Linked DNA regions of Homo sapiens: regions 1 and 2 are each reported to be linked to region 3. The links are microRNA targets in miRTarBase. Many come from high-throughput screens and were not tested one by one. Region 3 holds a microRNA gene; each other region holds the end of a gene's coding sequence.
Evidence for each region. The annotated mature microRNA hsa-miR-6862-3p reads CCUCACCCAGCUCUCUGGCCCUCU and lies in region 3 at 1,548-1,571, shown strand. An mRNA with a match to its seed (bases 2 to 7 or 8) in the 3' UTR can be bound and repressed. Matches are read on the target gene's strand: a 7mer-m8 pairs with bases 2 to 8, a 7mer-A1 pairs with bases 2 to 7 and ends in A, and an 8mer does both.

Region 1: the mRNA of CELF1 is a reported target of hsa-miR-6862-3p. Seed matches in the 3' UTR shown: 7mer-A1 at 3,325-3,331.
Region 2: miRTarBase lists NPEPPS as a target of hsa-miR-6862-3p. Seed matches in the 3' UTR shown: 7mer-A1 at 1,491-1,497.

The regions. Positions count from the first base shown.
Region 1 is chr11:47,468,817-47,473,009 of GRCh38, reverse strand. CELF1 (CUGBP Elav-like family member 1) reads left to right here. Exons shown (of 15, transcript NM_001376376.1): 15 at 653-4,193. The coding sequence ends at 780. Among named protein-coding and RNA genes, the nearest start is that of RAPSN, 22 kb to the right of the region's middle.
Region 2 is chr17:47,621,272-47,625,428 of GRCh38, forward strand. It overlaps NPEPPS (aminopeptidase puromycin sensitive), which reads left to right. Exons shown (of 23, transcript NM_006310.4): 23 at 497-2,005. The coding sequence ends at 649. KPNB1-DT (KPNB1 divergent transcript) reads right to left here. Exons shown (of 4, transcript NR_171700.1): 4 at 256-816. Among named protein-coding and RNA genes, the nearest start is that of KPNB1-DT, 26 kb to the right of the region's middle.
Region 3 is chr16:28,722,749-28,726,941 of GRCh38, forward strand. It overlaps MIR6862-2 (microRNA 6862-2), which reads left to right and starts at 1,504; the gene lies at 1,504-1,573. It overlaps EIF3C (eukaryotic translation initiation factor 3 subunit C), which reads left to right. Exons shown (of 21, transcript NM_003752.5): 9 at 416-575; 10 at 700-803; 11 at 1,574-1,715; 12 at 1,910-2,035; 13 at 2,171-2,264; 14 at 3,857-4,047.

The DNA.
Region 1 (4,193 bases), not on the chromosome of region 3:
CTGAATATGAGTTTGTGGTGTTGTTTTAACTTGGCCATGGGCAGGTCATTATGACCTCTTTTTGAGCCCCAGTTTCTCATTGCTGTAGTGGAGGTAAGGATTTCTACCCACACTGTTGCTCCAGAGAGAAAAATAATATATGGAAAATGGTTTGCAAAAAAACCTTTAAACAGTCCAGGTTTGTGCCTGTAAGTCCCAGTACTTGGGGAGGCCAAGGCAGGAGGATCGCTTGAGCCTAGGAGTTCGAGACCAGCCTGAGCAACAGAGTGAGACCTCATGGCTACAAAAAATTAGTCAGACGTGGTGGCGTGTACCTGTGTTCCCAGCTACTTGAGGCTGAGGTGAGAGGATCACCTGAGCCCAGGAGGCCAAGGTTGCAGTGAACCATGGTCACACCACTGTACTCCACCCTGGGTGACAGAGCAAGACCCTGTCTCAAGAAAAAGAAAAAAACCTTTAAATTACCATGTAGCTGTTAAGTGGTACTATTAAGAACCTAATTTATTTCGTATGACATAATGTCCAGATTTCTTGTCCCTGCTGAATAAAATTGGGATTTGAGATGAAGCACATAAGGTATCTTGCATAAGGAGGACTGAGAATCTCCTTGCCTCATTATGTCCCTCACCTAGGTTTCTGCTTGGACACACAGGTTTTGTAAGTTACGACAATCCTGTTTCGGCCCAAGCTGCCATCCAGTCCATGAACGGCTTTCAGATTGGCATGAAGCGGCTTAAAGTGCAGCTCAAACGTTCGAAGAATGACAGCAAGCCCTACTGAGCGTGCTCCCCTCTGAGACTGGAGTGAGAGGGTCTTCTGGTAAGTGGGGGAGGAGCACCCTTAATGATTCGAAGCCCTGAGGCTGTGTGTTGACAGCCCTGGACCCTGATCCCTGCCACTCTCGCAGGCACAGCTTGCCCTGAAGACTCGGCTACTGCCTTCTGTGGGAGTTTCGCTTCGTACAGAGGACAAGTTTGTGCTTTGGTTTCCAGTGTTTTACTTTGGAGTTTAGGTGCCATATCCTGAGGTTTTTTTTGTTTTTGTTTTTGTTTCTCCTTTATTTAAAGTTTGCTGTGTTTGTAACCAGTGTGTGTTGAGAAGGACCAACACCAAACCACCCTGGGGAAGGGGGACAGGGAAACATTTAACACAGACGATGATCAGGATTTGCCCCAAACCACCCCAAGAGAGAGGACTGAGTGGAACAAAAAAGTGACCCCCAGAACCTCTCTTAGTGTGAGGGTGGGTAGAATGAGAACTGACACCTGGGAGCTGTGGGGAGCAGAGCGGCTTTGGGGAAGAGTGGAGTGACTAGACACCTAATGCCCTGGCAGCTGGAGACTCAAACTCCTGTACAGCTACCTTCTGGGAAATAGTTTTTGACACCTATTTTTCAGATTCTTGTCCGGAATTTCTGCTGCTCTTTTCAAAAAAGGGCATTAACAATTCTCTGGAAATAAAGCACCTGTTAGCCTGACATATGCAAAAAGCAGGGCGGCATCACCCATTACGAGCTCCCCCAGCCAGCAGTCAGTATTGGATTGGCCTTGCCTGGCTGGTGGCAGTTTGGGAGAAACAGCCAAAGAGGTTAGTTTATTTCAACACCAAATTAGACCATGGCCCATTTCCAACGGGTCTCTTTAAAGGCCTCTATGGAATACATTGCCTGGTTTCCTTCTTTGCAGTTCACCACAGCAAGGAATGTCACCTCCATCCCAAGCCACCATTTTCTCATGAAGGCAAATCCAAGAAGGGCTTGCAGTTCTTGCTGAAGGGGGTACCATTTGTGGGCAGAGTGATCAATACCATCTAGTTGGGGGAGGAGGAGCTTATTTCTTGGTGTACTTGAATCAGAAGGTCCCTGCAAGCCAGTATGCTTCATTTGCCAGTGGCCAGAAATTCTCCCTTGCCTCCTTGATTGAGGTGTCCCAGATGTAGTATTCCCACAGGGGTCTGGCAGGCCCCTCCTGTAACCACTCCAGTCACATTTTCTGCTCTTGAGGCAGAGGTGACATCAGGACGTTTACAGCCTCCACATGAATTGAGTGTTCATTTACCTCAGTATTACCGTGTTCATTTTTGTCCTCGTGCTACAGTTAGCTCCCTGCCGCCTCTTGCAGGTCTTACTTCAGCTCTTGCCTGTGACCCACACAGCTTCTGGGCTCTGCCTCTGCTCTAAGAAGTGCTGTGGGGGTAGAGAACCAGGAAGGACATGCTGTTGGGAATGTACACCTGGGCAGAGGTGGCCCTGTTAAGATGTGACTGTAGCCACAGCCAGGGATGGGATCCCTGGGTCTCTGGAATCTGAAACCTCAACAAATACCAGTCTTGACCCCTAGCAGCAGAGATAAGAATAAAGGGGTTGGTTTGCTATTAAGTCAGATGGGGGCTCTCTCCTTGTCATGCTGTCCCTGTGGGTAACAGACAGGGATTGACCATCTTACTGTTGTACAGGTAGCTGGTGGTGTTGGATTATCCCATTGAAGCTGGGACAGCTGTTCCTTTCTCATAGTGATAACTTGGGTCTGTTGTCCTCTAAGGAACGTGAAACATACACTTCTTAAGCTGAACCACGTAAACTTGAAATTCTGCGCACTGGGAGAAATGTGTCCTGTGTTTCAAAGGATAAAACTGTTCTAAAGGCTTCCAGGGTCATGATGGGATTTTTTAAATAAATGCAAAAAATAAAAATAAAAAAGAAAAAAGAAAACAAAAAAAAAAAAGAAAAAAATGCTAGGTTGGGGAGGCGCTGTTCTGAATCCCAACCGGCTGGAACCAAGAATGTCGTTTCTATTTTTATAGAAGTTTTATACAGCTCCGGGGTGGAGAATATTTATTACCTAAATTATATCTCTGGAAAAGGCCAGGATTTTGTAGAATCCAGAATGTGATTGTTATACACACAGGGTGCTGTGTATGATTGAAACTACTGACTTTCTGTGGCCCGTTTGCAGCCCAGCTAACCTGCCCAAGGGGAAGGTGTTAATGCTGTGAATTGGCAGAGGAGAGAGCTGTGCTCCATAGGGTGCTGCCGGTGCTGTGCTCCCTAGCCTTCTGTTCTGTCTTCCTCCTTAGCCAGAACGCCACTCCCTTCCCACATCCCCTTCTTCTCTCCGCCTTCCCCCATCTCACCATTATTTGTCCATGGATTTGTCCTGGGCTCTGGGACCTTATGAAACCCCTTTCCTAATGACATAAGAGGCCAAGGTGCAATCCACCCACCTTTGATACCAGACCCTGAGGGCTTCATACCTGCTGATGGGTTTTCTTTTCTAAAAGGAATGCTCGCCCCAGCAGGGTCCTGGGCTGCTTGAGCAGCCAGCTGGTGAGACCATGCACTTCTCTGTTCTCTCCTCCCCCTGCCCAGTGAGTTAGCACAGCAGTAGCACTGCCCTTGAGCACAGTTCTTTCCCCAGGCCAAAGATGGTTTTGTGAAGAAGCTGCTCCCCTACAAGTCTCACGTGTGAAAGGGCTCAGCTCAGAGTGGAGACTCGCTGTCAAGTCTTAAGCAATCCTTTTCTGTTGTGTGAAGGTTTCACTTACAATGTGTTTTCTGCTGTAGTTTTGTTTCTTACTTGGGTTACATCATGAAATTGATTTGCCTTGAATGCAGCCAGACCACTGTCTCCTGGGTTCCCCTTGAGTGGCCAGGGCCTGGATGGAAGCTAAGAGCTTGGATTTCTGGGAACAAAGGGCCATCCCCATAAGATTGAGCAGAAATTCTGGTCCTCTTCCCTGAAAAATTTTCCCCACCCCAGCCAGCATCTTCTGCTTCCCCTTGGGTTGTGACCAGGGAGTGGGGAGAGAGGCTGAGGCTCTGCTCCCCTGGAGACCTTCTCTTAGGAGTTGGGTGCTTCATGGAAAATCCAAGCCTTAGGTTCCCTTCTGTCTCTGGCAATTAGATGTGTTCTTGGTGTCCTCCATGTCCTTTTTGACTTTTCCCTGTGTCCATTGTTAGCATGTGCAAAAGTTCCCTGTCATTACCCAACCCCTGCCCGCCCACCTCATTTCAGGGCTGTACACACAGTGAGTGTTCCTGTTCTCTCTCTCTTTGTTTGGATGTATTGCTCTGTGTAACTCAGTGGGTCTCCCTCTTTCTGGTTTGTTTTTTTTTCTAGATTCCTGCCGTTTGTTCATCGTTGTGCCTAAAGCATGTCGATGTGGCGTCAAGTACATCGTCCAAATCCCTGTCT
Region 2 (4,157 bases), not on the chromosome of region 3:
TAATCTTTATTTGAAGCAGCCAAAATGTGTTGAATCCTTAAGTACTCTGTGCTAGGTATTTTGTCAAATGTTTATATGGATTGTCTCTTTAATCTTCTGGAGTAGATATTTTCTCATAGTTGAGAAAACTGAGACTTAGAGCAGTTAATTTTCTCACAGTCACAAGCTAGTACATGACTAAGCCTGGATTCAGGTTCCAAGTCTTCATTCCAAAGACTATATTTACCACTACACAATTAGCCTAAAAGAAAGGCAGTAGGTTCTGTCTCTTTATTAACTTTTGATTAGGTTGTTAAGCATATAATTAAGGGGAGAATTCCTATATGCAGGTCCAAGGAGTTGCTTGTTTTCTTTTAGCCTGAGGGTGGCAGTGGTAAATTCTCATGCCTGAAGATTATGCATCCTTCATATAGACCAGTGGGTATTTTTTCATAACCTGTAATATTAACTTCTTATTGCTAGTAATGATCCTGCATTCTGGGTTGTTTTATACCAGGCTTTCTTCGAGAGTCACCCAGCTCCTTCAGCTGAGCGTACCATCCAGCAGTGTTGTGAAAATATTCTGCTGAATGCTGCCTGGCTAAAGCGAGATGCTGAGAGCATCCACCAGTACCTCCTTCAGCGGAAGGCCTCACCACCCACAGTGTGAATCCTGAGGTGCCGCCATTGGCGGTTCTGCTGCTTCGCTGCAGGGATAAGGTGGAGCTACCGAACAGCTGATTCATATGCCAAGAATTTGGAGTCTTCTTTCAAACCAGTGGGGGTTGGACAATGAATGTAGTTAACTGGTTCCTGCTCACACTCCAGAATTAAATTCTATTGAAAAAGGAAAATCAGCAATTCAGCAAAAAATAAATAAAAAATAAAAATGTAAATATGATAGTAATAAAATAGAGCATAACGAAACTGTGAAACTTTCTGAAGCCTTGTCAGTGGTTAAAAGTATTTAACACTCTACTGTTAATGACAGATGTTCTGTTTTTATAACCTACCAAAAGGAAACTAGAGGCTTCTTGGTGAAGAGCATTTTTGTGAAGTGGGTTCTGCAAGGAGCCTATAAAGCCAAGGGTGGTGTCCATTTCTGGGAATGGTTAAACACAAAAGGCTGATAGCTGGTATCACATAGTTGGAGTCAGTGCATAATTCCAAGTGGCTTTTTTTTTTTTTGGCACGGGGACTGATCAGGAAGATATATTCCTGCATAACTCAATCTGAACCAAGGATTGTAGTTTAGTTTTCCTCCTTGCCTTCCCTTCTGTGTGACCGACCCCTTGGCCAAAAAAAAACAAAAAGCAAAAAACAAAAACCTACCCTGTTCTGGTTTTTTTCCTCCCTTTAGTTCCACCCCCAACCCCCATTCCCTGGTGTCCTTCTTAGAGATGAAGAAATAATAAGGAAACATCTTTCATAGCCACATTAAATAAGAGAAACTGATATACATTATTTTTTTCTTTTTAAAGATGACTTATAAGAACCCTGAAATTTATATAGGTGAGACAATAGAAATAAAAAGATCTTCAGCCAGGCCTTTCTGAAGGAGTTATTCTGCTAAAAATGGTCTTAGTTGTCTGAAAAGCCAGCTCTTGAACCTCTTCACAACAGTATCAACACTGGCTTCTCCCGGTTCATTTTATGCGTGCGAGAAGTCAGTGGTAACTGCTGCAGGGCTTAATACATTAGTGGTAACTGGTTTAAAAAACAAAGACTGTAAGCCTGTGTGTGCCACTGTTTGCTTCAACAGTATATCCTAATAAGCCTCACCTATTTAATCCAATGAGTTTTAAATCTAAATCTCATTCCCTTCTTCTTTCCCTACCTTTTTTTTCTTTTTTTCTTAAAAAAATATTTTGTGTTATTAACAGAAATTCATATTTGGTGTGGCTTAACGGTATTTCAGAAGGTCATCAGATTGTGAGACTGCTTCCTTGAAACATTTTTGTGCTATTGTTTTAAAAAAATAATTAAAAAACAGTTGGCGTTAATAAAAATGTCAATGTGAAACTGATGTCCTGATTCACTTTATTCTCTTTCTTTGATAAGAAACTAAAAACTTTCCTATCATTCAGTAGGCTTATGCAAAGTTATACTATCATAGGATTTTTCAAATTCAAAAAAAATCCAGTTCCTTAATTCCTAATTTATAGATCTTAACAGAAAAATCCTGAGATTCATTCTAAATCAGTTCTACATTCTCAAAACTCTCTCAGAGACTCTTATAGTCAGCATTCAGGAATGAACTTGAGACTTCCTCAGTCCCTAGTTTTGAGGCACCCTAGTTCAGGCACCATGCTCAGGGCTGCCCTTAGGCTCTCAAATGTTCTTAAGGCACCAGTGAAGCAGGGGCACCAAAAAGACTGAGAAAAATGCAGGTTTAATTGAAGAACTCAGAATTTTGCAATCAGAAATTCTGGAAACAGGTTATTTTACTTTCAGCATACATGTGATTTTTGTCTGTAATAATAGTTAAGTAGTTTGAATTACGTTCAGGGAGAGGTTATACTAGATGTCTTCCATTTGCCTTTCAGAACCCCTCTTCATCCCACTCTGGACCCCAGCGGGTGCTGACCCACATGGACTGCAGCATGAATGGCTCCCTTGCCCTCTGACTTCAGCTTCTGTTTATCCAATTATTAATATCCAAAGAAGATGAGAAGATATAAGGAAGAGATGGTCAGAGTACTCTGGCTTTCTCATTGCCAGGTCACATGGGTTGTCTGTGTCCCTTTAGCAAAGACCACAGCTCTTACCAAGCAGCCCCCTCTAGCTTCTGGCTCCTTCTCTTTGCTCCTTCACATCTAGGAATAGAAAGAAAGGAGAACTCGAGAGCTGGGTGCGGTGGCTCACGCTTGTAATCCCAGCACTTTGGGAGGCCGAGACGGGTAGATCACCTGAGGTCAAGAATTCAAGACCAGCCTGGCCAACATGGTGAAACCCCGTCTCTACTAAAAATACAAAAATTAGCTGGGCATGGTGGCGCATGCCTGTAATCCCAGCTACTCGGGAGGCTGAGGCAGGAGAATTGCCAGAACCCAGGAGGCAGAGGTTGCAGTGAGCCAAGACCGTGCCACTGCACTCCAGCCTGGGCAACAAGAGTGAAACTCCGTCTCCAAAAAAAAAAAAGAAGACTCAAGCTGGGTGCGGTCACTCACACCTGTAATCCCAGCACTTTGGGAGGCTGAGGTAGACAGATCACCTGAGGTCAGGAGTTTCAGACCAGCCTGGTCAACATGATGAAACCCCTGTTTCTACTAAAAATACAAAAATTGGCCAAGCATGGTGATGCATGTCTGTAATACCAGCTACTTGAGAGGCTGAGGCACAAGAATTGCTTGAGCCTGGGAGGCAGAGGCTGCAGTGAGCTGAGATCGTGCCACTGCACTCCAGCCTGGGCAACAGAGCGAGACTGTCTCAAAAAAAAAAAAAAAAAAAAAAAAAAGGACTTAGTTACCAGCCCTGGATTACGCCATTATTCTTCATTGATTTTCCTGCACTCTGTCCATGTCTCTGTAAATAGTCCTTTATTAAACCTTCCTCAGTTTGTGTTCTTTCCTACCAATACCTTGAGTGATTTGGGCACAATAGCCCTGCTGCTTTGGGTCTCTAAAGGTTTTAATTCAGCCTTTTCTGTGTCAGATGTTTTGTTTTTCAAATAGCTCCCTATCATAAGTCATACACCCATTTTACAGATGAGAATGCAGACTCAGAAAAGTAAGGCAAATTAATACAGCAAAATAACTATCAACCAGTGATCAAGCCAGGTTTGCTAGTCTCCAAAGGCTGTGGTCTTTCAGGGAACTGCCATGTCTCCACAATTAAAAGATCATAGTTAGACTGGGCCAGGCAATAGCATTAAAGCTTAATTACTTTTTCCTAATATATTTTGGTTACAAATTTTAGTGGAAATCAGAAGGTTTGGAAGAAACAAGTATGTTAATGCCTCCTATGGAGAGTTTTACATTATTTTTCATTAATGAGATTCAGTAAAGCTTTTTGGAACAGTGGGCAGTGGTGGGGTGAATTCTCAACTTGCAATTTCTAAGGATAGGTTTTAGGGAGCAAGGAATAAATCTGTTGAGTACAACTTGGGGAGGATTAAGAGGAGTTCTATAGCTCTAAATAGATTCTTCAAATTCTATAACCCAAAAAGTTTCCAGAAT
Region 3 (4,193 bases):
TGATTGTGGCTCACTGCAGCCTTCTCTGCCTCCCAAGTTCAAGTGATTCTCGTGCCTCAGCCTCCTAAGTAGCTGGGACTACAGGCGTGCACCACCATGCCTGGCTAATTTTTGTACTTTTAGTAGAGATGGGGTTCCACCATGTTGCCCAGGCTGGTCTTGGATTCCTGACGTCAAGTGATCTACCATGCTTAGCTGACAGGTTGTTTCTATTAATATGTCTACAGTGGCCTGGTTAGTACTCTGTCTTGTTAGAGATGGCTATGGTTATGGTTCACTGTGCCCTCTAGGTCATTGTTGTAGAGCATAACTTGGACCCAGGAGCTGCTGGAGGAAAAGAGGAAGTTGATGGGAGGAAGAAGCCTTAGAGGTGGGGAGGGGCTGATCTGTCATCTTCTCCCATGTCTGTCGGCAGGGCACCCACCACAGATGAGGACAAGAAGGCAGCCGAGAAGAAACGGGAGGACAAAGCTAAGAAGAAGCACGACAGGAAATCCAAGCGCCTGGATGAGGAGGAGGAGGACAATGAAGGCGGGGAGTGGGAAAGGGTCCGGGGCGGAGTGCCGTTGGTTAAGGTGAGGGTTTCAGAGGTAAAATGAATTGGGGAACAGTTTGGGAGGACATAAAGGTCCCCTTGTGGGGAAAAGGCAAGGACAGTTTCCCGCTGGCATGTACATGACGGGATATGTGCTGATACAGGAGAAGCCAAAAATGTTTGCCAAGGGAACTGAGATCACCCATGCTGTTGTTATCAAGAAACTGAATGAGATCCTACAGGCACGAGGCAAGAAGGGAACTGATCGGTAAGATTCGTGGGCCTGGGCAGTGGGATTGCAGGGTGGCAGAGGGTGGAGGTTGGGGGAAGGGATTGTTGGGAGGGTCTGTGTGTGGCTGTAGTAGAGGGAATTGTATGCTTGGGGCATCCCCGTCCATTATCTGCTGTTTACTCTTCTTGTGACTTAAAACCAATCACTTAACGTTTTGGATCTGTTTTCCCATCTATACAATGAGATAATGTTCTCCTCTTTTTTTTTTTTTTTTTTTTTTTGTTTGAGATGGAGTCTCGTTGTTGCCCAGGCTGGAGTGCACTGGCGCGATCTCGGCTCACTGCAACCTTTTTGCCTTCTGGGTTCAACCGATTCTCCTGCCTCAGCCTCCTGAGTAGCTGGGATTACAGGAACCCGCCACCATCCCTGGCTGATTTTGTACTTTTAGTAGAGATGGGGTTTCACCATGTCTCGAACTCCTGACTTCAAGTGATCCGCCTGCCTCAGCCTCCCAAAGTGCTGGGATTACAGGCATGAGCTACCACACCTGGCTTTTTTTTTTTTTAAGATTAAAAAAGTAAAAGAGTGTTTACCTTCTTTAGTTATTAGGTAACAGAGGATGGTGGTAGGTGTGAAGCATTTCACAGCATTCCAGGATGGTTGGGATTATTGTTGCTTCTGTTTGGAATTTATAAAGGAGAAGCAGGGATATGGGTGATGAGGAGGGCGCGTTATCCGAAGCGGGCATGCTGGGAGAGACTTTGTGATTTGTCTCCAAAGCCTCACCCAGCTCTCTGGCCCTCTAGTGCTGCCCAGATTGAGCTGCTGCAACTGCTGGTTCAGATTGCAGCGGAAAACAACCTGGGAGAGGGCGTCATTGTCAAGATCAAGTTCAATATCATCGCCTCTCTCTATGACTACAACCCCAACCTGGCAACCTACATGAAGGTGAGAGCAGTGAAGAGGCTCATCTCAGGGCATCGCTGGTGGGTTGGGGGAAGAAGGTACCTAGCATCTTAAGACTCAGGGGCTATGGAGGCAGTCTTGGTGGTGGAAGGCCCCATGATTCCTGCTGAAGGGGGAGGCATCCGCTTACTCTACCTTCACACCTCTGACTCTGATGTGGCCTGAAATCTTGGCAGCCAGAGATGTGGGGGAAGTGCCTGGACTGCATCAATGAGCTGATGGATATCCTGTTTGCAAATCCCAACATTTTTGTTGGAGAGAATATTCTGGAAGAGAGTGAGAACCTGCACAACGCTGACCAGGTAAAGGGAGGAGTTGGCAGGATAACTGGAGGTGTGTATTTTATGCTTTGGGAAGGCTCAGTGGGACCCGAGGGTTGAGGTTTGAGACTGAGATCTGGGCTAATTTGTTGACTCCTCCTTCGCCTTCCTTTTCAGCCACTGCGTGTCCGTGGCTGCATCCTAACTCTGGTGGAACGAATGGATGAAGAATTTACCAAAATAATGCAAAATACTGACCCTCACTCCCAAGGTGAGCCTGAGCAAGCGTGGGCTTTGCTGAGAGGAAAATTGTGGGGAATATTACTAGGTTTAGAGCTTTGTGAGGATTATACTAAGTCAGAGTGCTTGAAAAGCCAGCCTTTCAACTTACCTAGCGTTCACACGGAAGGGCCTGATGAGATGCTGGCTCCCAGTCCCATCGTTTCTGATTCCATAGGTCTGAGTGGGGCTTGAGAACCTGCACCTCTAGCCTGCTCCCAGGTTGCTGGTCTCAGGGCTATACTTTGAGAACCTTTGGGGTAAGGCATCTATTCACTTCTCTTGTTTAGCTTGGATGAGAGGCATTGGGGTGTGAAAGTGCAGCATAGTTTACTCAGTAAAAGTGTGAATGTGCCCATCAAGTCAAGGGTGTAGTGATTAACAAGGCAGCCAAAAGCTTACCTTTTGTGCTGGATGGAGAAAGGCAGATTGAAAAATAATAGTAGTAAGATATGGCCGGGCGTGGTGGCTCACGTCTGTAATTCCAGCTCTTTGGGAGGCCGAAGCAGGCGGATCCCGAGGTCAGGAGATTGAGACCATCCTGGCTAACACGGTGAAACCCCATCTCTACTAAAAATACACACACACACACAAAAAAAATTAGGCGTGGTGCTGGGCGCCTATAGTCCCAGCTACTTGGGAGGCTGAGGCAGGAGAATGGCATGAACCCAGGAGGCGGAACTTGCAGTGAGCCGAGATCACACCCCTGCACTCCAGCCTGGGCGACAGAGCAAGACTCCATCTCAAAAAAAAAAAAAAATAGTATGATGTTAAGATAATTCTGGGCCAGGTGCAGTGGCTCACGCCTGTAATCCTAGCACTTTGGGAGGCCGAGGTGTGTGAATCACCTGAGGTCAGGAGTTTGAGACCAGCCTGGCCAACGTGGCAAAACCCTGGCTCTACTCAAATACAAAAATTAGCCAGGCATGGTGGCAGGTGCCTGTAAATCCCAGCTATGTGGGAGGCTGAGGCAGGAGAATCCCTTGAGCCCAGCGGGCCAGAGGTTGCAATGAGCTGAGATCACACCACTGCACTCCAGCCTGGGCGAAAGAGTGAAACTCCATCTCAAAAAATAATAATAATAATTCTAGATGATATAAAGTTCAGAGTTAAACTAGGGCCCTGTGGTAAGAAGTGGCTGGAGGGGTGGCTGCTGTAGCTAACAGCTGGAGAAAGCACCCTTAAGTAGGGACCACCTGAGGTGAGATCCAATGAGGAGGAGTTAGGGGAAGAATCAGCTGAAGACAGCGCCTGACAGGAGGAGCAGAGAGCGAGCTTGATGTTCCAGGAGTAAAAAGGCCAGTGGGACTCCAGCACAGGAAGCCAGAGGGAGAATCGTGGGAGACCAGGCAAGGGCCAGGCCTGGCAGACCCTTATTGGCAGAGGTTGGCAGTTGGGATTTTTTTCCTAAGCTGTGGGACTGGAAGGTTCTGGGTCCTGGGAGTGGGAGATGGCCTTTCTGGGGCACACTGACTAGACTTTTCTGACGGGTGCAGAAGAGGGACGGGTTGATTGGAATGAGTGGGGACAGATGGGAAAGCCTGGCTGCCCAGCTGAGACAAGGGTGGGTGCTCTCCCTGCCAGAGTACGTGGAGCACTTGAAGGATGAGGCCCAGGTGTGTGCCATCATCGAGCGTGTGCAGCGCTACCTGGAGGAGAAGGGCACTACCGAGGAGGTCTGCCGCATCTACCTGCTGCGCATCCTGCACACCTACTACAAGTTTGATTACAAGGCCCATCAGCGACAGCTGACCCCGCCTGAGGGCTCCTCAAAGGTGAGCACGTGGCAGTCATGGCAGAGGGGAATGGGTGTGTCCACCTGTCCTCCACTTCTGTCAGGACTTGACAGCAAATCTGTTACTCTCTAGACTTCCGCAGGTGGAGCAGGGAGGGAAACTGAGGTATTAGAATGAGACTGGAT